Regions from separate parts of the Homo sapiens genome. Here regions 1, 2, 4, 5, 6 and 7 are each reported to be linked to region 3. Evidence: microRNA targets listed by miRTarBase, many of them from high-throughput screens and not tested one by one. Region 3 holds a microRNA gene; each other region holds the end of a gene's coding sequence.
Evidence for each region. The annotated mature microRNA hsa-miR-2355-3p reads AUUGUCCUUGCUGUUUGGAGAU and lies in region 3 at 2,055-2,076, shown strand. An mRNA with a match to its seed (bases 2 to 7 or 8) in the 3' UTR can be bound and repressed. Matches are read on the target gene's strand: a 7mer-m8 pairs with bases 2 to 8, a 7mer-A1 pairs with bases 2 to 7 and ends in A, and an 8mer does both.

Region 1: miRTarBase lists SHC3 as a target of hsa-miR-2355-3p. Seed matches in the 3' UTR shown: 7mer-A1 at 4,235-4,241.
Region 2: the mRNA of PACRGL is a reported target of hsa-miR-2355-3p. Seed matches in the 3' UTR shown: 7mer-A1 at 3,487-3,493.
Region 4: miRTarBase lists ING1 as a target of hsa-miR-2355-3p. Seed matches in the 3' UTR shown: 8mer at 1,363-1,370 and 8mer at 4,323-4,330.
Region 5: miRTarBase lists MVB12B as a target of hsa-miR-2355-3p. Seed matches in the 3' UTR shown: 8mer at 563-570, 7mer-m8 at 359-365 and 7mer-m8 at 152-158.
Region 6: miRTarBase lists VWA1 as a target of hsa-miR-2355-3p. Seed matches in the 3' UTR shown: 7mer-m8 at 2,354-2,360.
Region 7: the mRNA of SLC38A2 is a reported target of hsa-miR-2355-3p. Seed matches in the 3' UTR shown: 7mer-A1 at 593-599.

What each region holds. Positions count from the first base shown.
Region 1 is chr9:89,009,827-89,014,377 of GRCh38, reverse strand. SHC3 (SHC adaptor protein 3) reads left to right here. Exons shown (of 12, transcript NM_016848.6): 12 at 803-4,551. The coding sequence ends at 931. Among named protein-coding and RNA genes, the nearest start is that of S1PR3, 21 kb to the right of the region's middle.
Region 2 is chr4:20,726,935-20,731,252 of GRCh38, reverse strand. PACRGL (parkin coregulated like) reads right to left here. Exons shown (of 9, transcript NM_001258345.3): 9 at 1-3,968. The coding sequence ends at 3,912. It overlaps KCNIP4 (potassium voltage-gated channel interacting protein 4), which reads left to right. Exons shown (of 9, transcript NM_025221.6): 9 at 1,124-2,647. The coding sequence ends at 1,171. Among named protein-coding and RNA genes, the nearest start is that of PACRGL, 29 kb to the right of the region's middle.
Region 3 is chr2:207,107,524-207,112,074 of GRCh38, reverse strand. MIR2355 (microRNA 2355) reads left to right here and starts at 2,002; the gene lies at 2,002-2,088. The region is part of intron 2 of KLF7 (KLF transcription factor 7); the gene reads left to right.
Region 4 is chr13:110,718,597-110,723,147 of GRCh38, forward strand. It overlaps ING1 (inhibitor of growth family member 1), which reads left to right. Exons shown (of 2, transcript NM_198219.3): 2 at 633-4,551. The coding sequence ends at 1,336. Among named protein-coding and RNA genes, the nearest start is that of ING1, 7.2 kb to the left of the region's middle. RefSeq lists an enhancer at 674-1,365.
Region 5 is chr9:126,502,894-126,506,003 of GRCh38, reverse strand. MVB12B (multivesicular body subunit 12B) reads right to left here. Exons shown (of 10, transcript NM_033446.3): 10 at 1-2,827. The coding sequence ends at 2,741. Among named protein-coding and RNA genes, the nearest start is that of NRON, 94 kb to the right of the region's middle.
Region 6 is chr1:1,438,793-1,443,343 of GRCh38, reverse strand. It overlaps VWA1 (von Willebrand factor A domain containing 1), which reads right to left. Exons shown (of 3, transcript NM_022834.5): 3 at 462-4,263. The coding sequence ends at 3,557. Among named protein-coding and RNA genes, the nearest start is that of VWA1, 5.4 kb to the right of the region's middle. RefSeq lists enhancers at 1,716-1,865, 2,482-2,531.
Region 7 is chr12:46,358,437-46,361,436 of GRCh38, reverse strand. SLC38A2 (solute carrier family 38 member 2) reads left to right here. Exons shown (of 16, transcript NM_018976.5): 16 at 228-3,000. The coding sequence ends at 326. Among named protein-coding and RNA genes, the nearest start is that of SLC38A2, 13 kb to the left of the region's middle.

The DNA.
Region 1 (4,551 bases), not on the chromosome of region 3:
CAGGCCCCACTCCACCTTTTTCAAGTGTGAGTGATATCTGTGAATGTGCCGGCTCAGAGTGGAGGCGGCTGATGGACCCCAGGGACCACAGTGCAGGCCAGCAAGCAGGGCAGAGTGTTCAACCTCCTCTCCCCTGACATGGCATTAAAAGTTTATGGGCAGGCTGTAGAATTGAAAGCCCAGGAACACGGAGCCTGTACCTCTGACCCAGCCTGGCTCACTCTCCAGTGGGGGACTGCAGGGGCAACAGGAGCTCCTCTGGGGAACTGTGAGGCTTGCCCCTGGTGGGTGCCCAGGATGTCTGGAGAGGAAGGAAGGCTGCCTGGAGGTGCTGGCATTGAGGTAGGGCCAGGCTCAGGTGGAAGACACTAATTCTGGGCCGGGAGATGTCCATGCAAAGGCCTAGAGGTGGGAGGGTCATGGGAGCCTGCAGAGCCCAGTTCAGGGCTATCCTGAGAGGGCCAGGGAGGGAGCAGGAGAGACAGGTGAGGTGACCTTGGTTGGTGAAGGTGGAGGAGGCCATGCCTATAGGACAGTGGGCTGGGACATTCCAGAACTGAGTCCTAGGGGCCTGGGCTTATGGTTACTGAAAGGTCTTCAGGTAGTTTGGAGGTGAGCCCAACCAATGAAATGGATTGGCCATTGCTCTTTGCAGACAGCATCTCTAAAGTGGTGGAAGCCCCTTGTCCCCCCCTCCTTTCCTTCTGGGCCAGTTCAGATGGTCTGGCTGATTCTGAGCAAACCATTTTCTCTTTTTGCTGCCTGTGAGATGTGCTTAACCTTTCCTTTGCTTCATTCATAGATCCGGACAAAGGACAGAGTCTTTGACAGTATCAGCCACCTCATCAACCACCACCTAGAAAGCAGCCTGCCCATTGTCTCTGCAGGGAGTGAGCTGTGTCTCCAGCAGCCAGTGGAGAGGAAGCAGTGACCTGGCCAGCACTGCTCCCAGCACTGCGCACCAGGTCAGGAGGACCTGGAGTGGACTAGAATCGGGGCTGCTGGAACTGGGACAGCTGCCTGTGGCTCAGAGCCTTCTTCAAAAGCTTCAAAAGGAAGGCTTCCTTTAAGGTCAAGTTTCATAAACTTGGTTCTGAATTTCTCATATGCATATTAAAGGTGTACATACCTATACATCCTGTACAAATTATCCCTCTATATTTATATTTTTTAAGACTAAGAAAGATGTAAGACTAATGTTCTGTGCTGTATGTTTTTAATGAAAAAAAAAAATAAGTTTAACTGTAGTTGTCCAGGCAAAAATTTAATTCAACTGACCCATCCCACCGGGAAATGCCACTAGGAAGGTGTAGCCTGCAGTTTTACCTAATAAGCACAACTGGAGGGGAATAGAAACACAGAATTGTGAGGGAATCGCAAGGCATGCTGCTCAGAGCATGCCTAGCCCTGCACTGAAAGCTATGAGATACTGGTTCTGAGGCATGGCTGTGCTTGCTGGTGGGAGCGGGCATCCTCCCTTGGCCTCCCTGGGACACCTCCTGTGCTCCCTGCACTGCACTCCACGTGCCTGGGGTGTCTACACAACTCGCTGCAGCTTCACTAAAGAACAGGTGGCACTCCAGCTTCTCCGGGTCCTGCTGAGCACAGGGCCCCGCCACCCTTGACCCCAGTTGTGCGAGGAGTACTTGGGAATTCATTTCATGCCAAAATGGCACAAAATAAGCTTCACCAACCAAGATTTTGATTGACAAGTGCTTCCCTGTTCTCATGTATCTAATGCTAAAATGGGTATTTGTAGAAGGGTGGTCGGGGCAAATTCCTGGTTTGTGTCTCCCTCTAGTCAGCGGTTGACTACAGGCTGCTTATGGTAATTGCTAGTAAAGTCCCCCGCCCGCCTTATACAATAGGGGAGAAGCCTGTGTGACAGCAAGAGCAGGCACCCATCCCAGAGCTCAGTCCCGAAGACTCAGGTATTGAGGCTTCTGGGGCTGCATGTGCCAGAAACCCAGGAGTCACTGGAATCCATTTGAGGTACTGCCTCTGGCATGAGGGATGGGGGAAAGGCCTGCTGTCCCAACAACAAGGTTTCTCCGTTGCTGCAGGGAAGAGCATGTGCCTGCCCCCACTCTTTGTCTTGACTCCCTTTCTTCCAGGTAAAATACTGTCATTTCCTGAGGAGTCATTTGGTGTTAGAAAGCTGGCAATGTTTATACCTTTCAAATACTATCTGGGCTGAGATTGCCCTGTGATTTTCACAGATGCCCTTTAAAGAATAGATGGATCCATTTGCTTGCTGGCAGCGTGGCTCTTGTTCTGGTGAGACCCCACAGGGTACAGCACCCTGTAGGGTATGGGTCAGCAGAACAGAAAGACACACTAAACACGCTTAGAGTTGGATAGTGATAAATCTGATCCTGTAAGGAGAGTTATGAGGAGACTGAAAAATCTGGCAGATAATAATACTGCTAAGTTCTAATGCCAATGGTATGAGCCCCATTTCTGCCTTGGGGTGTGCGTGTGGCCAGATGGAAGGACAGGTTAGAGCTAACCAGTGAGGATGAGTCAGGGCAGGCCCCAGCCTTCATACATGGCCTTCTAGGGAGTCTTTGCCTTTGAGGGTCCAGTGAATTTGAGATGACAGTGAAGTCAGTGTTCTAGAATGTTCTGCAGTGGATTGAAACTCTGGAGAGTCTGACACTACTGTAGACTGCACTGCTGTTTTCTGAAATGGTTTTGGCTTCAGGCATCATGTGGATACTCTGCTTAGTGATCCAGAAGCAGACGGCTCCACGGGGTTGCTGGCAGCAGCTGCATCAGGCTCCTGCCCCAAGACAGCATAGACTTGGGTGCTCTGAGAGCTGCCCTGCACATCTGTCCTCTGGGAGGCTGGGAGCCCTGGAGAGACACACACAGCTCTGACCCACCTGTGCATGAATGTGCACCACATAGAAAAATGTGCGAAATGACCTTCTTTCTACATTCATGCATTCCCCACTTGTGAAAGGTCAAAATGCTATTATAACATTCAGGGACAATAGCAAAGTAGGAAATGCAAGTTAGGAGCTGTGAATGCTGTAACATTTGATTTACTTTATTTTTCTCTTGGGGGGACTTGAATGGTAACCTGCAGCTTTAGTAGCTCTTGCTGTGAAGTCAGTGTCTAGTTCGATGGTGATAGAAAATATATATATTTTTTGCATGAGAATCAATTTAGAAAATTTAAAGTATTGGAGTCGAATTTTTTCTTTTTAATATTAATTCAAAATATACATTTTTAAGCTCAGATTATATATTGGTTACACTAGAATAGTGCCAGTGAAGTGAGCAGGCTTCAGACATAGCAGATGGCAGCGATTTTCTAATCTTTGTTCCCTCCCATTTGTAAAGTGGGTTAGAGCACACATTAGTTATCCCAACTCTTCCCTCCAGCACTGTGTGGTGGGCCATTCCTGTGAGCCTCACAGACACATGGGGAAAGTGAGGCTGGGGCTGGTGCCACACCTTCCTGGAGGCCATGTTGTCATCTGGCTGCAGAGCTCTTCTGCTCACTCAGCATTTCGTGAGCCCTGCTGTGTGCCAGCCTGTGCTTTGAGCTCAGGATTCCAAGGCAAAAGCAATGGAGGCTCCTCCCTGTCTAGCCTGGGCCCCTCTTCCCCACACTTTCTCAGGCCACATCTCTGCCTGGGCAGGGCAGGGAAGCTGAACAATGAACGCAGCGGGAATGGCATTAGGCCTTGCGTTCCAGGGCCTCAGGCTTCCAGGGCACAGTCGCTGCTGCTGTGCTGGGCCACCCTGGTCCTGCAGAGTGCACCTGGGCCCTGCTGTCCCTCCAATGGGCACCCCCAACACTTAACCCCAAACTCTATGTCTTCTGGGAGTACAAGGTGGGGGCCAGCAGTCCTAAAACGGCCCCTCTGCCCTTACCGAGTGGCCCTAGAGACCCCCACCCACCTCCCCTAACCCCACGAATGAATCAGCTGTGCTTCAAATGACATCTCTGTCCCACGGAGGCCGGCTGGGCCTCTCATGGGGGTGCTCATTGTGGTTTAAGTCAGCTTTGATTCTTGACCTCCAAGGCTGCCTCTGAGTAGCTAACCGGAGAATCGGGTGGGGAGGTGAAAAACACCGCAGTCAAATGACTCAATCTTTAATCCTGTGCTTAAGACACCACTGTTGCTGTTTTTTATATTTGAAGCACCCAAAGACTGGGCGTCCGCTCAGCCTTGATGAGCGAGCAGCTATTTTGTCAGGCCATCTATGATGTTGGGATAATGGACAAAGGCCTGATTGGGCCATATATGGCCTTCTTTAGGGCCTCCTGGAGGTGGAGGAAGTTGTGGGTAATTTCTAATAAAGACGGGAAATGACAAGCCGTGTGTGTAGGTAAAGTCCTAACTTAAAAGGAAGGACAGGCCTAGGGAAGGGTGGACCCTAAAGGGCCCATGTGCCAGGGGAACAGTGGACATGTGTGTCCAGCCCAACCTCCATGTCTGGTGCTGGGATTCTGAAGGTGGCCCCCAGCTCCCAAAATAAAGCTTTCCTTTTCAGTAGCGTCCGACACTTGGGTAGCTTCTTTCTATAAGCAATGCT
Region 2 (4,318 bases), not on the chromosome of region 3:
ACAAAAAAAAATTAAGTTAGCTGGGCACGGTGGCACGTGGCTGAAGTCTCAGCTACTTGGGAGGCTGAGGCAGGAAGATCACTTGATCCCTGTTGAGCCATGATTGTGCCACTGCACTCCAGAATGATGGGCAACAGAAATAGACTCTGCCTCAAAACTAAAAAAAGAAAAAAAGAATTTTTCAAATAATCCTGAAAACAAAGAAATCCGTTGTTTCTTTAGTTTTTCTCTTTATTTTTAAATTGTTGTTCTTACTTTTCTGGATGTCTGCTTGTCTCTCAACTTGGATTTCCATGCAGTGGTCTTTGAGAGAATTAATTTGGTGACATTAAGCTGCTTGACGGTGATGTTACTTGGTTTCTAGCAGTGGAAGCCATTATTGGTTCAGCCACCATTTACCACTACCATAAACAGCTCAGTAAGTGCTATTCACATGCAACTGACAAGTGCTCCAATAATGCCCAAAGTCTGTCCCCTAACTCATTTCTAAAGAATATGCTAAACTGAACACAGCCACTGAGCAGTGGTTTCTGCTCCCCAATTCTTTCTCTGTAATTGAGAGACCATTCATTTTTAAAGGCTCCTTCAGGCCATGCAGCTTTAGCCATAACTAGCAGACAGAAAGAGAGATGATTACTGCAAACATGTTACCTCTTAATCCACCACCCTGCCTCCTATGCGCCAGCCTCCAATCTTCATGAACTGCTGGCTCATACACACAAATTTTCCTTGTACCTGTATAAAAGTCTGTGTGATTTGGCCTGTGATCTACATAGAATGCCAAAATTCTCATTTGCTTTGACACACCTCTGCACCTCTGTAGTTTCCATTTTGGCATTATGATTTGAGAAATATCCTCTATTAATACCAAGTAAAGATTTAAATAAAGTGGTTTAATGCCTGGTCAATAGACTCCACAAAATATAAAATGGGTCCTTCATAGTCATCTATGTGGAAAATGGATAGAATAGAATGGCATTTACATTTGCAAACACTTAATATTTGAGCTTTTGGCATAGGTGGTTGAGGTGGTTGATGGGAGGAGGCAATACTCAGGGGCAAAATAGTGTACTTTTCCTTGCAGATATGCTGAATTTAATCGCTCTGTGTTTCTCCCTTACAGGATGAAAACATAATGCGCTCCATGCAGCTCTTTGAAAATGTGATTTAACTTGTCAAATAGATCCTGAATCCAACAGACAAATGTGAACTATTCTACCACCCTTAAAGTTGGAGCTACCACTTTTAGCATAGATTGCTCAGCTTGACACTGAAGCATATTATGCAAACAAGCTTTGTTTTAATATAAAGCAATCCCCAAAAGATTTGAGCTTTCAGTTATAAATTTGCATCCTTTTCATAATGCCACTGAGTTCAGGGGATGGTCTAACTCATTTCATACTCTGTGAATATTCAAAAGTAATAGAATCTGGCATATAGTTTTATTGGTTCCTTAGCCATGGGATTATTGAGGCTTTCACATATCAGTGATTTTAAAATATCAGTGTTTTTTGCTACTCATTTGTATGTATTCAGTCCTAGGATTTTGAATGGTTTTCTAATATAGTGACATCTGCATTTAATTTCCAGAAATTAAATTAATTTTCATGTTTGAATGCTGTAATTCCATTTAAATTCCATTTATATACTTTAAGGAAACAAGATTACAACAATTAAAAAAACACATAGTTCCAGTTTCTATGGCCTTCCCACCTTCTGTTAGAAATTAGTTTTATCTGGCATTTTTAAACATTTAAAAATTATTAAACATTTAAAAATTAGTTTATTATCAGATATCAGCATATGCCTAATAAAACTTATTTTAATAAGCATTTAATTTTCCATAATATGTTACAGCCAAGGCCTATATAATAATTTTGGATTTGTTCAATCTTTCTTACAGGCTGTTTTCTATTGTATCAATCATTAGTATCAATCATTAAGTGGAAGTTGAAGAAGGCATCAAACAAAACAAGGATGTTTACAGACATATGCAAAGGGTCAGGATATCTATCCTCCAGTATATAGTAATGCTTAATAACAAGTAATCCTAACAGCATTAAAGGCCAAATCTGTCCTCTTTCCCCTGACTTCCTTACAGCATGTTTATTTATATTACAAGCCATTCAGGGACAAAGAAAGAAACCTTGACTACCCCACTGTCTACTAAGAACAAACAGCAAGCAAAATTAGCAAGCAAAATTCACTTTGAAAGCACCAGTGGTTCCATTACATTGACAACTACTACCAAGATTTAGTAGAAAATAAGTGCTCAACAACTAATCCAGATTACAGTATGATTTAGCTCATCATAATTCAGATTATTTTTAATCATCTTAGCCAAAACTGTAAAGTTGCCACATTACTAAAGCCACACACATCGTCCCTGTTTTGTAGAAATATCACAAAGACCAAGAGGCTACAGAAGGAGGAAATTTGCAACTGTCTTTGCAACAATAAATCAGGTATCTATTCTGGTGTAGAGATAGGATGTTGAAAGCTGCCCTGCTATCACCAGTGTAGAAATTAAGAGTAGTACAATACATGTACACTGAAATTTGCCATCACGTGTTTGTGTAAACTCAATGTGCACATTTTGTATTTCAAAAAGAAAAAATAAAAGCAAAATAAAATGTTTATAACTCTACTGTCTATGTTACAGGTCTTTTCCAAGAAATTTTGTAATTAATTAAATCTTACAGTACTTTCTAGATGGCAGATAGCTCTGGATGGTGCTCAATGCAATGAAAACAGGTAAAAGCAAGGCCAGCAGGCAGGCAGCTGTTGTAGCCAGAGGGAATTGCTTCTATTACATCAAAATTCTGAACTATGTCTATATTATATTTTAAAAGCTTCTTAAAAATTGCTAAACATAAGCACAACAAAATCAATGAATGCATGTACAAGTTTTAACATTTTAATTGCTGAATATCTTTAAGTGAACATCAGTATTTTCTGGCTATGAAATGCAAAAATAACACATTTACTTAAATACAGTTAACACCTAAAATTTAGGTAGTTGTAATGAGTTGTAATAAACAACATACTTGTAATAGAATTTACAGAATTAGAAAAAATTTTTTAAACTAGAATACTCTGAAAATTTTCCAAGCATTGTACATTATAAAATACATATTTACAAATAATATTAGTAGTGTATTCATGGGGCCAGGCATGGTGGCTCACACCTGTAATCCCAGCACTTTGGAAGTCCACTGTGGGAGGATCACTCACCAGAATTCTGAGACCAGCCTGGACAACAGAGTGAGATCCCATCTCTACAAGCAAATTTCAAAATTAGCTGGGCATGGTGGCACACGCCTATAGTCCCAGCTAATCAGGAGGCTGAGATGAAAAGGATCATCTGAGCACAAAAATTTGAGGCTTGCGGTGAGCTATGATTATGCCACTGCACTCCAGTCTGGGCAACAAAGCAAGACCGCTTTTCTCTTTTAAAACAATTTTTTAAAAGTGTATTCACAAACATTTGTCCACTATTTTAAACTTCTATAGCCTTGTTAAACATTAAACCCAAGAAATGGCAAACTATCTATAAAAATAAGGGCACAGCTACAAACTGATTGCCAAAAAAGTGTTGTTATAAATAAAAAGACACTAGAAAATACAAATACATCTTATCTTGCAAACTCAATAATGGTTCTTCGCACAAATAATAAAAATACAAAAAATAAACCTCAAAATTGTACTCTTATAGAACTTATTTTAATAACTTTCCATTAGTAACTGTTCTTTTTTGTTGATGAATAACTTTGATTCAGTGTCTATTCATCTTAACCTAGTAAATAATGAATGGTGGCTGTGATTTACAAAAGAATAAAATAAATGAGTACCCACAGTTAGTGCTTGACACGTCAACAGGTAGAAAAAACAATTTTTGTTGGCTCCCTTCTTCAACAGCATATGGAGCAGTATGTTGGAATTTTAGATTTGATGATGCTAAGGCTCCCCTGTCAACAGAAAAAAATTGAGCATCATTAGTATCATGCAGAGTTCCCCTAATAGGTATTATATTTGCAGGAATATGCCTAGAAAGTATCTAAAACTCAAACAAAAAGGGGTAAGAACAAAATGATGAAATAAGAAGGACTTTTTGCTGAGTTAAATAAAATATAGGCTGTTTCTTTCTCTTTTTTTGAAGTATCTAACTAGAGAAGTAGTTAGAAGCCAGACTACCAGTATCTGAATTCAGCATCTACTAGTCACTTATTCGTCAAACCTGGACTAATTACTTTTCTGTGCCTAAGTTCCGTGATCTTTAGAGGGAGATAACAACAAAATCTCCCTCTGATGACTAGGA
Region 3 (4,551 bases):
AGGGAGGTGGTTTTGTTTGAGTATTTCATCTTTGTTGACAGCAGACTGTCAGAATAACAACTTTGCAAGTATATTATGCATAGTCCCTATTTGACTTAAGCAGGATACAGATTGAAAAGTTCAAAGAAGTCTGGGGAGTTTGTCTTACCCAGCCCTCTTCACCGGTTGATTGGATGTGGTTATACGGCCTCACTGTGGTCTGGCAAGACCCTGGAAACCCAGGGCAGGGGTCTTTGAAGACTGAAGGTGGTCATGGTTATTAACCCAGTGATAAATGAACATCAGTGCATACTTCCGAGGCTTCCTCTCATCGTACTCTTCTTGGAGAGCAGATCTTTTTTCTTTTGATGTCTCCATGTTTAAAACAATAGTGAGAGTGCAGGCATACAAGCAAGCATGCTTTGGGGAATGAAGAAAGGAGGTATTCCATGGAGTTGCTTCAACCCCTGGTTCTCCTCAGTCCTGAAAACCTGCTTTGCTAATTCTCATGGCCACACAAAACTGCTAGCTTTGACATCAAGCAAACCGGTTGACAGAATTGGAAAGGACGAATCTGATGGCTGCTAGTCCCCCAGCAGGGCTGCTGCTAAGCCACAATATGCTTTTGTGTGAATTAGAAAAAGTACCCTTTGCGTGGGGCAGCTTCCCTGTGCTTGAGGAGCAGAGCCAGATTCAGCCCCTCTCAGCCTGTAGCTGGACACCCTGTGCTCAAAACCTTATGTGGCCTGTGCGCACTGGGAGAGCATTCCACACAGATGGGCCTTCCCTGAACTTTTAAGAACTTCTGAGGCTAAGAAGGGCATAGCAGGAATGGGAGAGTCACACAATGGTTCAAGGAGGGTATCGGGACATCCTGTCAATGTCTGAAGAGGCCATTATGTGTGACAGCAAATCTTTTGGTCCAGCCACTCTCCCAAAATGTGAGATCATTAGTTGCCTAATGTGGTGGTTCTCAACCAGGGGAGATTTTTTCCCTCAGGGAACATTTAGCAATGTCTGGAGACATTTTTCATGGTCATATGTGGGGTTGGGGGTATGCTACTGGCATCTGGGAAGTAGAGGGCAGGGATACTGCTAAGTATCCTACAATGCCCAGGACAACTTCCACAGCAAAGGATCATGTGGGCCCAAGGGTCAACAGTGCCAAGGTTGAGAAACCCTGGCCTAATGCAACCTTAGCTGTCTTCTTCTCTGTAGGTTGCTCTGATCCACTTGCAAAACGTTTCCTAATCCTTTTAAGATGACCTACCCACCAGGTCTTGCCTTCTTCCCTTTTATGATCTTTAACAATATTGACTAAATGGAAATATTGCATTATTTATTATTTCTGTCAGGATTTAGATGATGTGCCGCTTTTCCCCTTATGGTAAGAAAGAAATCTCCCTACCTCCACTAAATGCTTAACCTTCTAGATTGAAGATTCGTGATTGTGACTCTTCCTGAGCCTCATGCCCTCCCCTTTTGCAGAAGGCTCCTGACCTGTAATAATTTGAGATTTTGCTGAGGCAGAGGTCTGATCACATCAGCTGCCAGGCTGGTACGTGGGAGGGAGGTGCTTTGCCAGGAAATGGGCCTAGCTGACCACGCACTGAAGAGCCACACCATCATATGGTATTGTCATTCTCCCCCTGGGTACAGTGGCCTTGCTGAAATGTAACAGTTGCTTCCTCGTTACCAAAAAGAAGATTAACTGTTAGTGAAGAAATAAGAGTGACGTGCTTTCCGTGGGAAAATAAAACTTTTATTGGTAAAACTGTATATTGCGCTGGCATTTGCTGCCTCAGTACATTTCCTACTATTCACTGTTCTGGTTCGCACCAGCACCATGAGGAGCATACTGGAAGCTTTCTGAGTTCTTAGGGAGAAAGGTGCTATTTCAGGTAAAAGGATTTAAATTGCCTTATCTAATGGACACATACTTTATGTCTGCATTTTGTCAGGAGCTGTGAATTATGCATTGGCCCTTTCAGCTACATTCACGTGCATAGAAAATAACATTGTCAGACGTGTCATCCCCAGATACAATGGACAATATGCTATTATAATCGTATGGCATTGTCCTTGCTGTTTGGAGATAATACTGCTGACTTTATTCCTCTCATACATGTGAATGTGGCTGTAGGGAGCACGTGACATCTGTGGCTTTTACATGTATTAGCTTATCCCTTGCCACTTGAAGAGATTGCCATTAGTGAGCTGGCCTTGTGGGGTCATGCTAAGTGCCATGTTTTGGATCACAGTTGTTATCGGACCTTAGTTTTAGATCCAGTAGGGAATTAGTAATATTATCTTGATGGCCTGAAGATGCAGTGGGTTACTTAGTCAGCTTCCCAGAGCAGATGTGCTAAAGAAAGGGTAAGCTGAGGCGTTCCTACTCAGATCAGCTTTGGGAGTAAGAAGGCAATTGGGTACCAAGCCTGGGAATGGCTGCTTCTATGTTAGTGCATTACCCAAGTAAGCAATAATAATATCACTTGTATTGATCTTTACAGTTGCCAAGTGTTTCACATACATCCTTCCATTTAACCTTCACTTACCGATGAGGTAAGTCTTCTCATTATACCCATTGTACAAATAAGGGAACTGAGGCTGAAAGAATCATTTTTCAAAGATTTCACTGCTGAACCATCACAGAGCCTGCCCTACTCTGTTTTTCCTTTAGAGATCAGTTATTTCTTTTGGGGGCCTAAGTTGAAACAATATAAATGAATTCAGTTTTGTTTATGGTTCAGAAAAATAAATGGCTATTTGTTGTTATTTTACTTGTTCAGTATAACTACTAATTCAGAATAGCTAAGAAAACTGAGTGATTATCTTGTATATTCCTACATTCTGTCTATTTTGGTTGAACTTAAGAATCCTTGATCTTAGTTGGTTTTCCCCTATTTTAAGAAAGAAAGCTGGTTTTGAAGATGCAAACAAACGCAAGGTATTGATTCTTGAAGTGGTATCTCAGTACTACTGCATTTGCATATTTTAGATAATTCTTGATGAGAAATAGCAAATAGAAACTTTTCTCTGAACCCCTTGAAAGAATGCATCTTAGCAATCCTCTTTATTACTAAGCTGGAAAACCCAAATGGAGATGCCTTAAAGAATTCAAAGGAATCTATGGATGGGTGGATCTTGGTGTATGAGTTGTATGCTCCTCTCAGTTACACCAGAGCTTTGCTAGGTGAGGTTGAAGAAATGATTTATGTGCCTTTATTTTTGTTTGTATGATAAGTGTGGAATTCAGGATAATTTTATTTTATCTTTGTTTTTGCCCAGTTGAGGATATTTATAATGGGTTAGAAGTCGTAAGAATAAAAACCCTTGGTAAATACAGGAATTGTAAATCTATTCATTGGCAAAGATCCCAAACTCAGGTTATGATTTTGCTTGTTATGTGCAGCAGTCTCTCCTCTGAATTCAGAAAAGCACACAGTGAAGAAGAATAGCTGCTTTCTAGCATTCTGCCAAAAGGATCTACAGGAACCTCAGAGTGATGGGCATTTATATTATATCCAGAGATCTGAGGAAAGAAAAGGTATTAACACCAAAAGACAAATTCCTGGAAGGCTGAAGGAATAACACACATTACCCCTGAGGGCTCCACTCTTTTGAGGATTGTTTGTCTGTAGATATTTTTGTGTGTGATCCTGTGTTCCTGTACATCTTTGTATTTTCAAACTTCCCCTTTTTATTTCATTCTACCTGCCGTGGAAATAATCTTAATAAGTCGTTAGAATTGGCGGGGCCCCCAACCCAATTTGATAATAGCCTTTTCCTTGCTGATAATTGGCTACTAAGCATTTAGAATGCTTTCAAATCCACCTGTGTATCTTTCTCCCCCCTCTCATGGTTAGATGTTAAAGTTTTTGTTTTTGTTTTTATTTTTGTTTTTGTGGTTTTCCTGGTGTGCACCTTATCCAAAAAGAATAGTTAATGAGCAAAGCCAGAAAGAATCCTTTGCAGCCAGGGAAAACTTTTCATACATCCTTCCCACTCCTGTCATTGTATGAGCTACAAGGACCATAGGTACAAAGCTTGTGGGATCAATTACCACAAGCTCACCGTTAAGCATTTTTTTAAAAATCTGTTGCGAGAAGAGTAAAGCAATAATTAAAATTAACTGAACAGCTTTTGCTCTATTGAGGCGTTAAATCTTTGTGTAAACACAATCACGTTGTGCAAACATAGGTCTTTTTAGTTGGGTGATTTAGACAGCGAACCCACTGAAGTTTTGAGGTCTCTGGGTCAAGGGTCCGTTTTGACACGGTTTGAGAGGTCACCTGCTCATTTGTGTCTGTGTTCTGCTGCAGAGAGAACTGTGAGCTGGTATGGTTCCTTGCCCACCGCAGCACAAAGAAGAGCCGGCTGGCATTTGGCAGATAGCGGTCTGTGACGAGGGGGAAGGAAATTGCACACAAAGCAAGACGGCTGCACACAGGAGCCGGTGGGGAGTGCTTAGGAACCTCTGGGGCCCAGGCAATGATGCGGCTTGAAGGTGGAGAAAACAGCAGTTATAAAATATAAATGTGTTTATTATTACACTGGGCCTATGCTATA
Region 4 (4,551 bases), not on the chromosome of region 3:
ATCATAGAGAGCTATTATATAAATTTATACACATTCTCTCATTTAACAGGGTATTCTAGATGTTGGTATATTAAAATAAAGAAAATAAAGACCTTTTTTATTTGAAATATTCAAATAATTTATAATATATTTTATTAATGTTTGTATATTGTGTATAAATGTAATAAATACCATGTTTATATAATGTTATATGTATATTAATAATTGTATTCAAATAGAAACATTTGAGTAAAAATGATGGCAGTATAGACATAGTCATTAATAGAAAGTATTAATAAATGTTGGGTCCCGAGCACTGCACCTCATTTAAACGTTTCCTCTTAATGGCTTCGGGCGTTGTCACCCGTGCGTGCCTGGGAACTGTTCTCAGGTTCCCTGGGGTGGCTGGAGCGGCTCCTGCCGCTGTGGAAGCTGGGCCGGCATTTGTGTTGTGTTGTGTTGTGTTGTGTTGTGTTGTGGTTAGCACAGGAACAGATAGGCCCGGGAGAGCCTGTGGCTGGTGGGCTTTGTTCTGGGCAAGCCGTGCGCTGGCCCCTAGGCTCCCTGCCAGCCCTCTCCGTAGACCCGTCCGGGGCCGTGTGGGTTGTCCCGGTGTCCTGCTCGCGAGTGACGCCTGTCCTTCTTGCCCCCAGAGATCCTGAAGGAGCTAGACGAGTGCTACGAGCGCTTCAGTCGCGAGACAGACGGGGCGCAGAAGCGGCGGATGCTGCACTGTGTGCAGCGCGCGCTGATCCGCAGCCAGGAGCTGGGCGACGAGAAGATCCAGATCGTGAGCCAGATGGTGGAGCTGGTGGAGAACCGCACGCGGCAGGTGGACAGCCACGTGGAGCTGTTCGAGGCGCAGCAGGAGCTGGGCGACACAGCGGGCAACAGCGGCAAGGCTGGCGCGGACAGGCCCAAAGGCGAGGCGGCAGCGCAGGCTGACAAGCCCAACAGCAAGCGCTCACGGCGGCAGCGCAACAACGAGAACCGTGAGAACGCGTCCAGCAACCACGACCACGACGACGGCGCCTCGGGCACACCCAAGGAGAAGAAGGCCAAGACCTCCAAGAAGAAGAAGCGCTCCAAGGCCAAGGCGGAGCGAGAGGCGTCCCCTGCCGACCTCCCCATCGACCCCAACGAACCCACGTACTGTCTGTGCAACCAGGTCTCCTATGGGGAGATGATCGGCTGCGACAACGACGAGTGCCCCATCGAGTGGTTCCACTTCTCGTGCGTGGGGCTCAATCATAAACCCAAGGGCAAGTGGTACTGTCCCAAGTGCCGGGGGGAGAACGAGAAGACCATGGACAAAGCCCTGGAGAAATCCAAAAAAGAGAGGGCTTACAACAGGTAGTTTGTGGACAGGCGCCTGGTGTGAGGAGGACAAAATAAACCGTGTATTTATTACATTGCTGCCTTTGTTGAGGTGCAAGGAGTGTAAAATGTATATTTTTAAAGAATGTTAGTAAAGGAACCATTCCTTTCATAGGGATGGCAGTGATTCTGTTTGCCTTTTGTTTTCATTGGTACACGTGTAACAAGAAAGTGGTCTGTGGATCAGCATTTTAGAAACTACAAATATAGGTTTGATTCAACACTTAAGTCTCAGACTGATTTCTTGCGGGAGGAGGGGGACTAAACTCAACCTAACACATTAAATGTGGAAGGAAAATATTTCATTTAGCTTTTTTATTTTAATACAAGTAATATTATTACTTTATGAACAATTTTTTTTAATTGGCCATGTCGCCAAAAATACAGCCTATAGTAAATGTGTTTCTTGCTGCCATGATGTATATCCATATAACAATTCAGTAACAAAGGTTTAAAGTTTGAAGATTATTTTTTAAAAAGGTAAATGGTTAAATTTTACATGACAGATATTTTATCTATTGGCCTGTTCCCCAAATGGCCATTTTAAAATGCTTGGGTACACTTCTCTTAAGTGGTCTAGTCAAGGAACCTCAAGTCATGCTTTTGCTATCACCAATCATAGTGTACCCATCTTTAATTTATATCAGGTGTATAAATGTACATTTCCAAATGAACTTGCACTTGTTATATTATAATTGGAAGTGCAGTCAGCAGATGCTGTTGTGAAGCTAATGTCACAATTATGTGCAAAGGTGTGCTTCCTGCTGTATGTGAGCTGTAAAAATGTTACGTGAAGAAATAAATGAAACTTGGCCAGTTTGTTCCTCTAGTAGTATATTTAATTTTGACATAAGTAACTTTTAAAATTTGTCTTAAAAATTTATACACCAGCAATTTAGACAAAGCCTTAAGCAAATTTTGTATTATTGTTCTCACTTATTATTAATAATGAAGTAGAAGTTACTTAATTGCCAGCAAATAAATACGTGTCAAAAAAGAATCTGTATTCAGACCCTGGGTCAGGAAATTACTGCCCACTTGTCAAGTTCAGCCCACCATCTGTTTGAAGATTATATGAAGTTTAAATTCTAGTGTCCATAAATAAAGTTTCAGCGGAACACAGCCGTGCTTATGTGCGTATGTATTGTCTGACTGCTTTTGCAAAACGGCAGAGTTCAATAGTTGCACCTGAAACCATTTGACTTGACAAGCCAAAACTATTTTCTGGCCCTCTGCAGAAAGGGTTTGCTGACCTCTGATTTAGACTAGCATCTAACATTGATTTGCCCACATATTGAAAGGGTCAGTGGAGTTTTCATTTATTATTTTTTATTTTTTTGAGATTGAGTTCCAGGCTGGAGTGCAATAGCGCAATCTTGGCTCACCGCAACCTCCGCCTCCCAGGTTCAAGCGATTGTCCTGCCTCAGCCTCCCCAGTAGCTAGGATTACAGGCATGCACCACCACGCCTGGCTAATTTTGTATTTTCAGTAGAGACGCGGTTTCTCCATGTTGGTCATGGCTGGTCTCGCACTCCCGACCTCAGGTGATCCACCTGCCTCAGCCTTCCAAAGTGCTGGGATTACAGGTGTGAGCCACCGTGCCCGGCTGGAGTTTTCATTTTTTTTTTTTTTTTTTTTTCTGAGATGGAGTCTCACTCTGTCTCCAGGCTAGAGTGCAGTGGCCCAGTCTTGGCTCACTGCAACCTCTGCCTCTCGGGTTCAAGCGATTCTCTTGCCTCAGCCTCCCGAGTAGCTGGGACTACAGGTGCGTGCCACCATGCCCAGCTAATTTTTGTATTTTTAGTAGAGATGGGTTTTCACCATGTTGGCCAGTATGGTCTCGAGCTCTTGACCATGATCCGCCCACCTCGGCCTCCCACAGTGCTGGGATTACAGGCGTGAGCCACCGTGCGCTGAGTGATACGTGGTTCCCTTTAACTTCGCACATGGTAAAATCAGTTTCTTTCCATGATCTGTTTCACAGTCTCTGTGAAGCTACCTACCACAAAGAAGTAGTGAGTGATGACTTTCTAGAATCTAAGTATATGGCATGTATTTATTATAAGTAAAACATTAAGTTTGCTGATTGTTTACTTGTGATAAACAATTATTGTGAACTTTATTTGTGCTGGACATAAGTGTCTGTTTTACAGTGAAATTCCATTATAGAGGGTTACTTGGTAGAGAAATGCAAATTGTAGTTGGTCATATACTAAAATTTGAACTTTTTACATATCAATACTTACAAATAGGTGTTTATTTTCCCACAAAACTCCAGAACATTTAAGAGTCTCGGGTGTTTAAATTTGATGAGATTTACCCAAACAAATAGTGAACAAAAGGTTTATGAAAATAAGTTATGAAACTAAAATACTTAATAAACATCCAGTGACAATAAAAATAGCTTGAGTCTTTGCTTATATAAAATTTCATGCTAATTTTTCACTTCTATATTAATTGGAGGTAATAATGCAAATTAAGTTATAGAAATGAAGATTCAATGAAATGCAGTTGCTCATCCTGGATTTCTTCATATTCAGTTTTGGTGTAGACAACTGGTGAAGAGAGATGGCTCAGAGGCCAAGCCTTGCAATCTAGGAGCCCAGCCCTGTCCTTTAAGGGCTTGATCTTGAATAAATTGCTTAACAGTTGGTCTATAGTTCTACACTTTTAAAGTATGTTTCACAGAGGGTGGTTCCAATAAATAAATGCACTGGCATATTCAAATGTTGGATAATTTTTCTCTAGCTTTCTTCAAGTTTCTCATAAGGACAGGTGGGTAGCCACTTATTCTTTAAAAAAAAATAGATACAATACAGAGTCGTGTTGGACTGGCAGTCTTAAATCACTCTTGTTATTTCCAGTGGACATTAAAAAAAAATCACAGATAAGTACTTAAAACACTCAAGATTTGGGATTTAGATCATGATTAGATACAATAGAAAGATCCTGGAATCCCGACATGAGGACAAAAATGGTACTGAATTCTTTTTGAAAAATAGATTACTGAAAAGCGATCTAATATAGAACAGTTGCTTTTACTTAGATGTTCAATGCATATTTGTTGTATAATAACCAAGTTATTACAGTTCAGATAAAGGGTCCAAAGTGTTTTCGTTATGATATAATACTTTCTATTGTAAACTGGACTAAAGAAACGTTGTATGTTCAAGGAAGTGTTGAGCAGCCATGGT
Region 5 (3,110 bases), not on the chromosome of region 3:
AGAGAGAAAGGGGAGGCGGTGGGGACAGTGTGCTCTGGTTAGCCGTTCTGGAGGGACAGAGGCTGCCAGCAGGGACAGAAGCAGTAGTGGGAAGTGCTGTGGGGGGACCTGAGGGATGAGGCCAAGACCCTTCACATTTCCAAGGGAACCCTTGTCCTTCCCTCCCACAGTGGCCAGAGGGCTCGTGGAGAAAAGTACTCTCCCAAAAGACAGAAACGCTCTCAATTCCTAGGTTTGAGCCAGAGTTTCATGCCTCAGTTCTCCTGCACGAGCCCCACTCAGGTGGGCTTATACACACGCATGTGCGTGCACACACACACATATACACACACACACACACACACACACAGGCACATGCTTGTCCTCACCCACCTCTCAGAAGGCAATAAATGGTGGGTTAGGAGCAGCCTAAAAGCTACCACAGACACCAACTCGTCCTTAACACTGTCTCTGCTTACTTATCTTAAGCTGCCGTTTACTACAACGTTCACAGTCATTTACTCTTATGCTAAGTCCGTAATGCTATGGAGAAGATGGCTCCAGCTCGCTTGAGTCCATGCAGTTTGTCCTCTTCCTGGTGTCCCTATCCATCCAGCAACTGCAGGAGGGCATGCGGGGGCACCTGGCTGGGACCCCAGCTCGACAGGGGCCTGCAGCGGCATCAGTGGGGGCTGTGGGAGCCCCTTCCTCTCCTGCAGCCGCCCTCACTGCTTATTCTGCGTCCTTGCAGACAGGGCTCCCACACCACTGCCTCTGAGCCTCCTAGGGTCCAGCGGCGCTGCCACAGGCCTCTTCCCAGTCATGGGGGCGGAGTGAAGGGCCCCTGGCATTACCTGTTAGAGGCAATCTCACAACCAGGGCACGAAAAGAGGTGAAGGACAAAGTTCACAAACCCTAATGAAGTGGGCAGAAGTGGCCAGAGCTCTGCCCTCTGCCCTCCTGCTGCCCCCACCTGCCAGGAGTCACCCTTGCTGTTGGGCTTTGTCACACAGGGCACCACCCGAGGAGCCACGGCAGACATAGGTGCCCCCTGTGGGTGCCACAGGGCTCCTCAGGTCCCCAGAACCACACTGGCTTATGTGAACGGAGCATCGGCAGCCAGCCTGGCAGCCCCCTCCCTGCTCAGCATCAGTCCCATGACAAGGTCCTGCTGCTGTGCCACCCAGGAGTCCTGAGAAGGCCACCCCCACCAGGGGCATCCTCGGGTCTCAGGGAGGGAGAAGTGGCCGCTTCCCTTATCCACAGAAATCAAGAGGTATCCGAGTGAAGATCGGGGTGGCAGAGGAGGAAGATGGGTCCACAAAGAGGCCTGGGGCCTGGAGACGGAGGGGCTGGTGCAGGGGCATGAGGTATTTCTGGCCCCGCCCGCCTCTTGGCCAGCTGCGCCGTCCGGCGCTGCCTCCCTTTCCTCCCGTTCCTCTGGGCCTCAGCTAGCACTACTGTGGGCTGCCCAGGACCTGCAGCAGGAGGCCGTCCCCGCTGAGGCAGAGGCTTCCACGGACGCAGGTAGTGCAGCCCCCAACCGCAGCATCAAGCCTCCACATCCAAGAGCCAACTCTTGGGGACCCAAAGATGTCAGGTCCCCATACTCTGAGGAATCAGGACACAGCCCAGTGCCTGACACCACAGAGTGAGGCAGCCCTTCGGGTGAGGGCCTGGGCCCCGAGGGATGGCAGCCACCACTGCCTAGGCAAACGCACCTGGGGCTGAACTTGGCGCCCGGCACTTTGAGGACGCCAGCACCAGTGGGCACTCGGAAGTGCCAGTTCTGGCCCAAATTTGGTGACCTGGGTCAGAGGGACCTTTCAGAATGACTTGTTCCCGTCAGCAGATACCGTCAAGACACGCCTGGCTCTGAGAGGGGCTGGGTGCCCGTGTGCCTGTATCCTCCTGGGGCCAGCACGTCTCAGAGGGTGTCCCTGTGGTCCCCGGGTCAGGGCACGGGGCTGAGGCACCTGGAGCTATTGTTGGCATGTGGTTGTTGCACAGATGAGCCCTTGGGGGAGGCGCGCCATGGCCGAGCACAGCGTCCTGGTGGTGGATCCAAGCAGGGCCGTCAACCGTCCTCCTCCCCAGAAAGCAACAACCCCTCCACCGGGGGCAGGGGTGCTGCTCCCCGACTTCCAGGCGACTGGGTGACAAGTCCATGGGATGTCCAAAGGGCAGGGTCCACCCCAGGGCCACTGGCTTCTTCCTCCCATGTCTTCTCAGGGCTGCTGTGAGATCCTGCAGAGAGGAACTTGTTCCTGGCAGCCCTGGGCCGGGGAGGATCAGCGACCCTGGAGAGTCCTAGGCAAAGCTGCCGGCCCTCAGGGTCTTCCAGGAAGAGACTCAACGGCTTAGTGGGGTCTGCCCTGGTAGGTGACAGGAGGGAGCGGAGGGAGCCGGTGGGCGTCACTGGGCGGCCAGGGCAACTGCCCGGGGCCCTCAGGGTGACTCCGTGGTGAGTGAGGTTTTTGGAGGACAACTGGTCATCACACAGACACGTTAGGAGCCGCTGGTCACTACAGCACACACAGATTAGTCATGGTTATGAACAATGTCCCCAGGGAGGCCGGGGTGTCAGTGAGGCCAGCTGAAGACAGGATGCGCCCACTTAGCTGCCCAGTCTCCGGGCCAGCCCTGCTGGGGCAGTGTGGGAGGGAGGGCTGGCGGAGGCGGCAGGAGGAGGCGGGGGCAGCAGCCCCTGCCGTCAGTAGTCTGGGCGGCGGTGGTCTCCCCGCAGGTGGCCGCTGGCTCCTCAGGACTGCGGGATCTGCTGACACCTGGTGGGGCTGGGCGGGAGCCTGGCGGCTGCGCTCTGCTCTGTGCGGAAGCTGTACTCGTACTGCAGGGGCGGGTGGGGACAGAGAGACACAGTCAGTCCATGGGACACTAGGGAAACCCCTCCACAGCCTCAGATCAAGATCAGGCAGAGGCCTGGGCCGCCTCGTGGGGCATCTTGACATGGCGCAGCTGGCCAGGCCGGTGCCAGCCAGAGCCTGCCCTCGTGGGCCCCTGAACTGTGCATGTGGCGTGTGTGCGTGGACACGCCTGCGGGGGTGACAGGCTCCTGTGGTGATGACTGGTACCCTCCACAGTGCCTGCCTGCTCCCTGTGAGGCCAGGCCT
Region 6 (4,551 bases), not on the chromosome of region 3:
GTCCTAAACTGTCCTCTCTCTGGCGGGAGGCTGTCATGTGGGCTGTGCTTCGGGGACTGGACTTGGTTTATTACTGTCACTATAGAAAATTGACTTGGTTTGGCCGGGCGCGGTGGCTCACCCCTGTAATCCCAGCACTTTGGGAGGCCGAGGCGGGCGGATCACCAGGTCAGGAGATCGAGACCATCCTGGCTAACACGGTGAAACCCCATCTCTACTAAAAATAGAAGAAATTAGCCGGGCGTGGTGGCAGGCGCCTGTTAGTCCCAGCTACTCGGGAGGCTGAGGCAGGAGAATGGCGTCAACCCAGGAGGCGGAGCTTGCAGTGAGCCGAGATCGTGCCACTGCACTCCAGCCTGGGCAACAAAGCCAGACTCCATCTCAAAAAAAGAAAAGAAAAGAAAAGAAAATTGACTTGGTTTATCACCGTCACTATAGAAAATTGACTTGGTTTATCACCGTCACTATAGAAAATTGACTTGGTTTATTACCGTCACTATAGAAACAGGCGACCTGCTTCCCTAGGTGGCTCCCAGCAGCGTGGCCCACGCTTGGACACCCCACTCCCCAGAAATCTGGACTGAGACCCCAGGCCTCTGTCTGGCTTCTCACGAACAGCTGTCTGGAGAGCTTCACGTGCTGGAGAGCTGTTGCTCCGTCATCGCTCACAGAGGCATGGGCCCGAATTTCAGCCCCCTCTGCCTCTCCGTCCAGTGGCCAGCAATGGGCTGTCCAGCGAAGGGCCTCGCACAACCTGTCAGGGACTGGTCTGGCACGCAGCCAGCGTGAAATCCTCAGGTTGGTTCTCTTCAGATGTGGGAGGTGACCGCAGCCCTGCTCACAGAGAGGGTGGAAACTGGCGCAGGTGTGGGAGCAGCCTCCCTTCGGGGTCTCCTCGAAGTACCCAGGGCTCTCCCCAGCGCTGCCCGCCCCCAGCCTTCTGAACACCTGCCACGTGGATCACAACCTTGTCGCTCTTCTCGTCTCAACTAGAAGCAACTGCAGCATGGCCCTTCCCGATTTCCAGGTGCATGTCGAAAAGCGTGCAGTGGCCTTGTGACGTGGCCGGGCCCTTGGCAAGGAAGTCCTGGCGGGTATCAGCCTCTGCACTGCACCCTGGGTGGACTGAGTCGGGGCCAGGATTGTGTCAGGGGAGGTGGAGGAGACGCGGGGACAGCCGGTTCACAGCGGCCTGGACGGAGCACTCCGGGGCCAGAGCTGTTCTGAGACTTGGTGCAGATTCAAAGATTTTAAAATGCCTGGGGCTACATAAGGGGCAGCACTTCTCAGACGAGGGCTTCTGAAAGGGGCATTCCTTGGCACTGAGATGGAGACGGCAGTGCCTTTTCACCCTCTCCGTGAGGCCTTGTGCTGTGCTCAGCCTTGGTGTGCAGAGATGGGCAGAGGGGAGGCAGAGCCTCTGCCAGACGGGTATGTGGGGAGCAGGGTTGTGGCCAGGGCCCCCGCTCTGCCCTCTCGGGATTGCAGAGCTGGAGCTCCTCCCAGCTTCTCATGTGAGTCTGAGTCGTCCACAGAAGCCACTGAGGCCACCAGGAATGAGCCCCTGGTGCCCCGCTGCCACCTGCAGGGTGCTCCGTGAGCTGGGCCTGGGCTCAGTGTGCAAGAGGCATCTCCTCTCACGTGACCGTGGGCTCAGATCTGCCAACACTCCGGAGAACAGGGTAGGGGGCAGGGGCTGCACGAAGGAGATCCTACCCCTCCAGAGGAGGTGGGGCCCGAGGCCCGGGCCTGCAACCCTGGCCACCTGCCGACCAGCAGTGCAGTTGTGAGCACGCCACCTGCAGTGACACACACAGCCCATGGGTCCTACTCAGGCCTCCGTGGCCTGACTTGGGGGCTAAGGGGAGCTCAGGAGAAACCCAAAGTCCAGCCAGCAGGGCCCCCCCACAGACACCCCCTGCACACACAGGCAGGGGGGCCTACTGTGTCTCATGCATCATCACACCGGAGGGCAAACTCTGCGTGGTGAGCCTGGCCCCAGCCGGCCCTCCATGAATGGTGACCACACCCAGCTGGTGGGCGGTGTGGCCTTGGGTTTCTGGTGGGGCCACGGGATGCACAGAGCTGGGTTCTTGGGAGACGGTGCCAAGGCCAGCTGTCCCGAAGGTGGCCCCTGGCACAATGCCCACCAGACCTGAGGGAGGGACTGAGACCACCTCAATGCTGCAGTTCCTGGGGTCACGCAGAGTCCACGTGGGGAAAGGGGCAGTGGACCCCATGCGGTGCAGGGTGTGGCTTTGCCAGCAGAGGGAGCCCGCGTGGCCCTGGGCCCAGGGCTCCGGGCCGTGGCAGAGACTGCGGTGGGAATGGCCCTGCAGAGGCCCCAGCCCCCTTGTCCTCTGCATTCCAGCCACCTGCCCTGGGCCCAGCTCCAAAGGAAGGGGGCCCAAGCTCTCTGAATAAAAGGTGCACATGAGGACCAAGGAGGCCTGACACTGGGAGGGGACAGCTCCACCTCCTCTCCCCGGACACCCCAAAAGGCGGAGACGTTCACAAGCTGTCCTGTCGGCGGCTGCTGTTTGTGGAGGAGTAAAGCATCCTAGCGAGACTGCAGGCTCGGTGTACATCTGATTTACTGAATTTTAAAGTCTGGGATGTTAGTGGGGAAGAGGCGAGGTGAGCATTGCGTGACGCCGAGGACTAGGCGGGGCGGGGACTGCACCTGGCTAGGCACCCCCACCCTGGGCAACTTGCCCACGGACCCCAGGGCAGTGAGTAGTGACAGGAGGTAGCCCGGGGTGAGACCTCTCACAGCAAGAAGATGGTGTGGTTGCTGGGGCCTCCCTGGAGAGTGTCGTCCCTGCGGCCCCTGGGAAGTGCTCCCTCACGACGGAAGGTTTCCTGTCAGTGCGGTCCCGGGGCCTGATAGTGGCGGTGGGCGGGTGGGGTCACGTGTCCTCAAGGTCCTGAATGCCCAGCTCTGCCCCATTCCTCTGATTCCCAGTGGCTGCTAGCTGGACCCAGCTGGTGTCCTGGGCATGAAGGCAGGGCCACCGTCCCCAGCAGGTGCTGCCCTCCTGGCCAGCTGAGCATCCTGGCCACCATCAGCGTCCAGGTGCCCCTACTCGCCCTTCCTCTTCTTCAGAAGCCTTTGCGGACCTGACCTGGGCCAGCTTCCCGCGATTCCCCTTCCGCTTCCTATCAACGTCCAGGACCCAAGCTGCCCGCCCCAGGCCAGCCCTTGCCACTTGGGGCCCGGTCTTCACACGTGGGAGTCTGACCGGGGCTCCTCCCTGAACAGTCCTGGGTCTGACGCTCTCAATTATCACCCACGGACCCACACGACGCCCGGCTCTGGGCGGGGATGGGGCCGGGGCTGCTGCGGGGTCCCGCCAGGCGAGGCCCCAGCCCTGGAGGGCAGGCGCCAGGCGGGGAAGCCCTGCGGCCGCAGGGAGAGGGCCGGGGTCGCGCGGAGTCCGCGTGGGGAAAGGCCGGGCCTGCACCCGTCTGCCGGGTTGGGCGCCTCCGCTCCGGGTTCGGGACACAGGGGCCCTCAGGTAGGCGCCGGCCCTCTCGGCTGGGCGGGGACGCCGGCTTACGGCTCACGGCTGGCGGTCCCCGGGGTCGGGGCGCGGGGCACGGGGCGTGGGCGCGGGCGCGGGCCGTCGGGCGTGCAGGCCTTGGCGGACAGCGCGCTCTCGCGGCCCGAGCGGAAGGCGGCGGTCACGGTCACCAGGTAGGCGGTGCCCGGCGCCAGGCCCTGCAGCGTGGTGCAGTTGCGGCCCGCGGGCACCTCCACCCGCTGCGCCTCCCCGCCCCGCAGCGGCCCGAACTGCACGTGGTAGCCGAGCGCCGCGGCTGAGCCCAGCGCTGGGGCCCAACTCACGCGGAGGCTGCGCGGCCGGGCGTGGGAGATGACGATGCGCTCTGGCCCGGCCTCCTCTGGGGCGGGGAGGGCGGCGAGCTGCGTGGGGGCCGGCCCAGCCCCCGACTCCGGGCCCGAAGCCCCCGGCCCTGCCTCACCGGGCCGCGTGCGCACCCGCAGGATCTGGGGCCTCAGGAGGCGCACGTTGGACTCAGGCACTAGCGCCACGTCGTAGTCCGTGTCCGGGTCGAGGCCGGCCCAGATCCAGTCCGTGGCGTTCCCTGGCAGCTGCTGGCGTCTTGCAGCCCCCGGCTGGGCGCTGGGCACCAGCTCCAGCACATAGTAGCCCGAGTCTGCGGTCAGCAGGGGTGGCCAGGCCAGGCGGAAGCCGCTGGACGTGATCTCCGTGGCATGGAGCTGCTGCGGCCGCATCGCGTCTGTGGGTGGTGCAGGGGGTCAGGGAACAGCGGTCAGTTCCTCCTCCGCTGCTGGAGGGCGGCCCTGGCTGATGGGGAAGATCTGGAGATTGGAGGCCCCACTAGGAAAGACGGGGCCCCGCGGCCAAGGAGCTGCTGGAGCCATGCCCCGCAGATGCTGGGGATTCTCAGAACGTGCCTTGGCTGGGGGAGGACGGAGGAAAGGGTGCAGCCCCCTCAGGCCCTGTCAGAAGCGCCCCTGCCTCCCTTAGCCCCAAACCCAGTCCTTTGTGGAGAGGTGCAGTGGCC
Region 7 (3,000 bases), not on the chromosome of region 3:
AAGGAATGAAAAAGTGAAAAAGTTCAGAAGGCCTCAAAGGTAGTTATTGTGTACTGCAGATAACATACTGATCACTTAGGAGTTTATATTTAGCAAGTTAAATATTCTTTCTATAGATTATATAGTGGATAGATTTTAGTAATTAAAGCACATTTCAAAAAATAGAAGAAATGTTTAGCATATATGTTTTATTACTTGCTGATCAATTTTCTCTATGCTCTTTGCAGGCTTTGTTCTTCCTGTTAAGTGGTGTACTGGTGATGACCGGAAGCATGGCCTTGATTGTTTTGGATTGGGTACACAATGCACCTGGAGGTGGCCATTAATTGGCACCACTCAAACTCAAACTCAGTCCATCTGATGCCAGTGTTGAGTAAACTCAACTACTATGAAATTTCACCTAATGTTTTCAGTTTCACTTCCTTTTGAAGTGCAGATTCCTCGCTGGTTCTTCTGAGTGCAGAATAAGTGAACTTTTTTGTTTTGTTTTGTTTTTTTAAGAAACTTATCTGTATGTTAGAAATGGATATGAACAACAAAACCACGAGTCTCGGGTTAAGGGAAGTGACAATTTTATTCCATTCCAGAGAATGGACAAACTCTTAACTTTTATCAAGCCACATGCTTGGCTGTGTCATTGTTTAACTTGGATATTTTATGATTTTACTTGAATGTGCCTAATGGAACCATTTGATGTGAGAAACAATTCTTTTTAATTTACAGCAAAATATTGAATAACCATTGACAAAAACACTATTATTTTTTGTACCAAAAATACTTAAAGACCTCAGAAGCACTCTTTTACTTTTAAGAAATTGCTTTTTTGAACTTTATTCAGAAGCAGTTATCAATAAATTCCATAAAATAATGTCATTGGTATTTAAAAATGAATATTAATATAATGAAATGGTTTGCCTTTTTGTAGGCATAATAAGCCAAATACTTTTTTACCCAAAATAATTTTTAGAGAAAATGATGTAATGAAAAATTGTACCATGAATTAGGAGCATAGTTTTTTCCATTTAAACGTCACCATTACTTAAAAGATGATTGATTATTGCTATACCAAATCAGATGAACTCTGTTCATCACTTTTCTTCTCTGTCCCCAAACAATTTGGTTCATTCAGACTGAAATGTTTGTGTCTTCAACTTATTAGAATGGAAGATAATGCAGATATTTCTGTGGGAAATAAAATAACTAATTTTGAGGTACCAAATAGTGCAATTGGGTAAAACAGGGTTTATTCAGTTGCATCTGTCTCCAGTGTTGTATTGACAGCTCTGGGTCTTTTTTTGGGCCAGCCCTTTTTTGACATTGCTTCCAGCAGTGGAAAATGGGCATTTGATGGCAATAGGCCAAAATTATTGTGTCCAGAGAGTACACTTTTTCAAAATGCTCACCTACTGGAAGTGTGAATTACTTGACAATGTATGGCTTAGTTGTGTTCATGTTTTGTCTACAGTAGAGGTCTAATCCACAGGTTACACCTATGTTTGATATGATATAAGTTCTCTTTGCGTAGGCCACTGGGTTTCTCATGCAGTAAGCTTTATAAAAACTCATTTGCACTGGACTGTCATCTCATTCTTGTACAACGTAGAATTACTTGTTTACATCCAACAAATGGTTAGCTAGGGAAAACAGTGCAAACTGAGTGTTAGTAGTCATTTTGGTCCAACTGCATGTCAACCCTTCCATTTCAATCCCAGTTAGAAATGAAAATAATTACTTTGAAACTTGGCTTTAAGAGCACATTTATCGTACGTCACAGTGTATGGTGAATATATTATTAAATAATGTGGTACTTCGCTCATCAGGCATAATGTCTAAAATCTAATATACATAATTCCATTAAGTGGTTGAAGGAAGCAAATAATGGAATTGTCAATTGGTCATCTGGCTGTAAGGTTTGCCCTTGAACTAAAAATGTTGTTTGGGGCAAGGGCCAGAAATGTGGAGACATGGTTTTTGTTACGCATTCTTGTATTATATGTGACTAAATTTACAAACAAGATACATGTGTAATTAAAGACCCTTATGGAACTGGAAGACGTCTTGTAGTGCTACATTGGGTGAAACCGTTGGTCCATTTTTGTCTGTTTCTATGAAGATAAAATAATTGGGGGCCATCTAGAAATAGAAAGGCAGTGGGAAGACAGATTCTACGGCACTGCTTTCATTTAATTGGGCTTTAGGCACTCCATTCGAATGCAGAACCTCACCTCTAGTTGAGACCAAGAATTGGCAAATTTGCATGAGCTCCTGGAAAGAGTTGCTGACTTTGTATCTAAGACCTGCCAGGGAATACCAAGAGTTGTTTCTACAGACTTTTTTTTTTTTTTTTGTATGGGAGAAGATACTGTGGCAACCAGGAAGGAATGGAAAAAAAATTCTTTTCTCTACAGCAAATTAATGTGAGGAAGCTCCTCCAATCCTCTGGCTATTTAAGGTTCAAAATCAAGTGCCTAGGGAAAATTCCAATGGATGATTTTCTGGGAGCTATCTTGTCTACCTTGAGGTTCCTGAACAATGAATTCCCATTAATGAGCAGTCTTCAGTATTAAAACCACTGTCTTGTCACCTCATTTTGCATTACTGTCTTCCGTGGATGTTTCAGTTACAACTGTAATGTTATTTATAGAACAACATTAATCCATTAAAGCTAACCTATTTTTCAATATTTATGATAATCTATGTACATATATTGTCTGTCCATATGTATTTGTAAATAGGTTGTATATAATGTCAGGTTTGGGTCTTGGGTTCAAGTGTATATATTCCTGTAAGTTTCTTAACTGCATTTTGATGAATTCACATTATGTAACTATAAGAATTGTCCCAAAAGTACCTGTACAGAAAATTGAATATTGAAAAATTGACAAATTGTGTACAAACACTAAAAAAAACTTGTTTAAATTGTATTTGCAATAAACAACATCAAATTTTTTCATGAAATCTTGGTACAAATTCAGATCTCTTATTTAAAATTTAAATAAG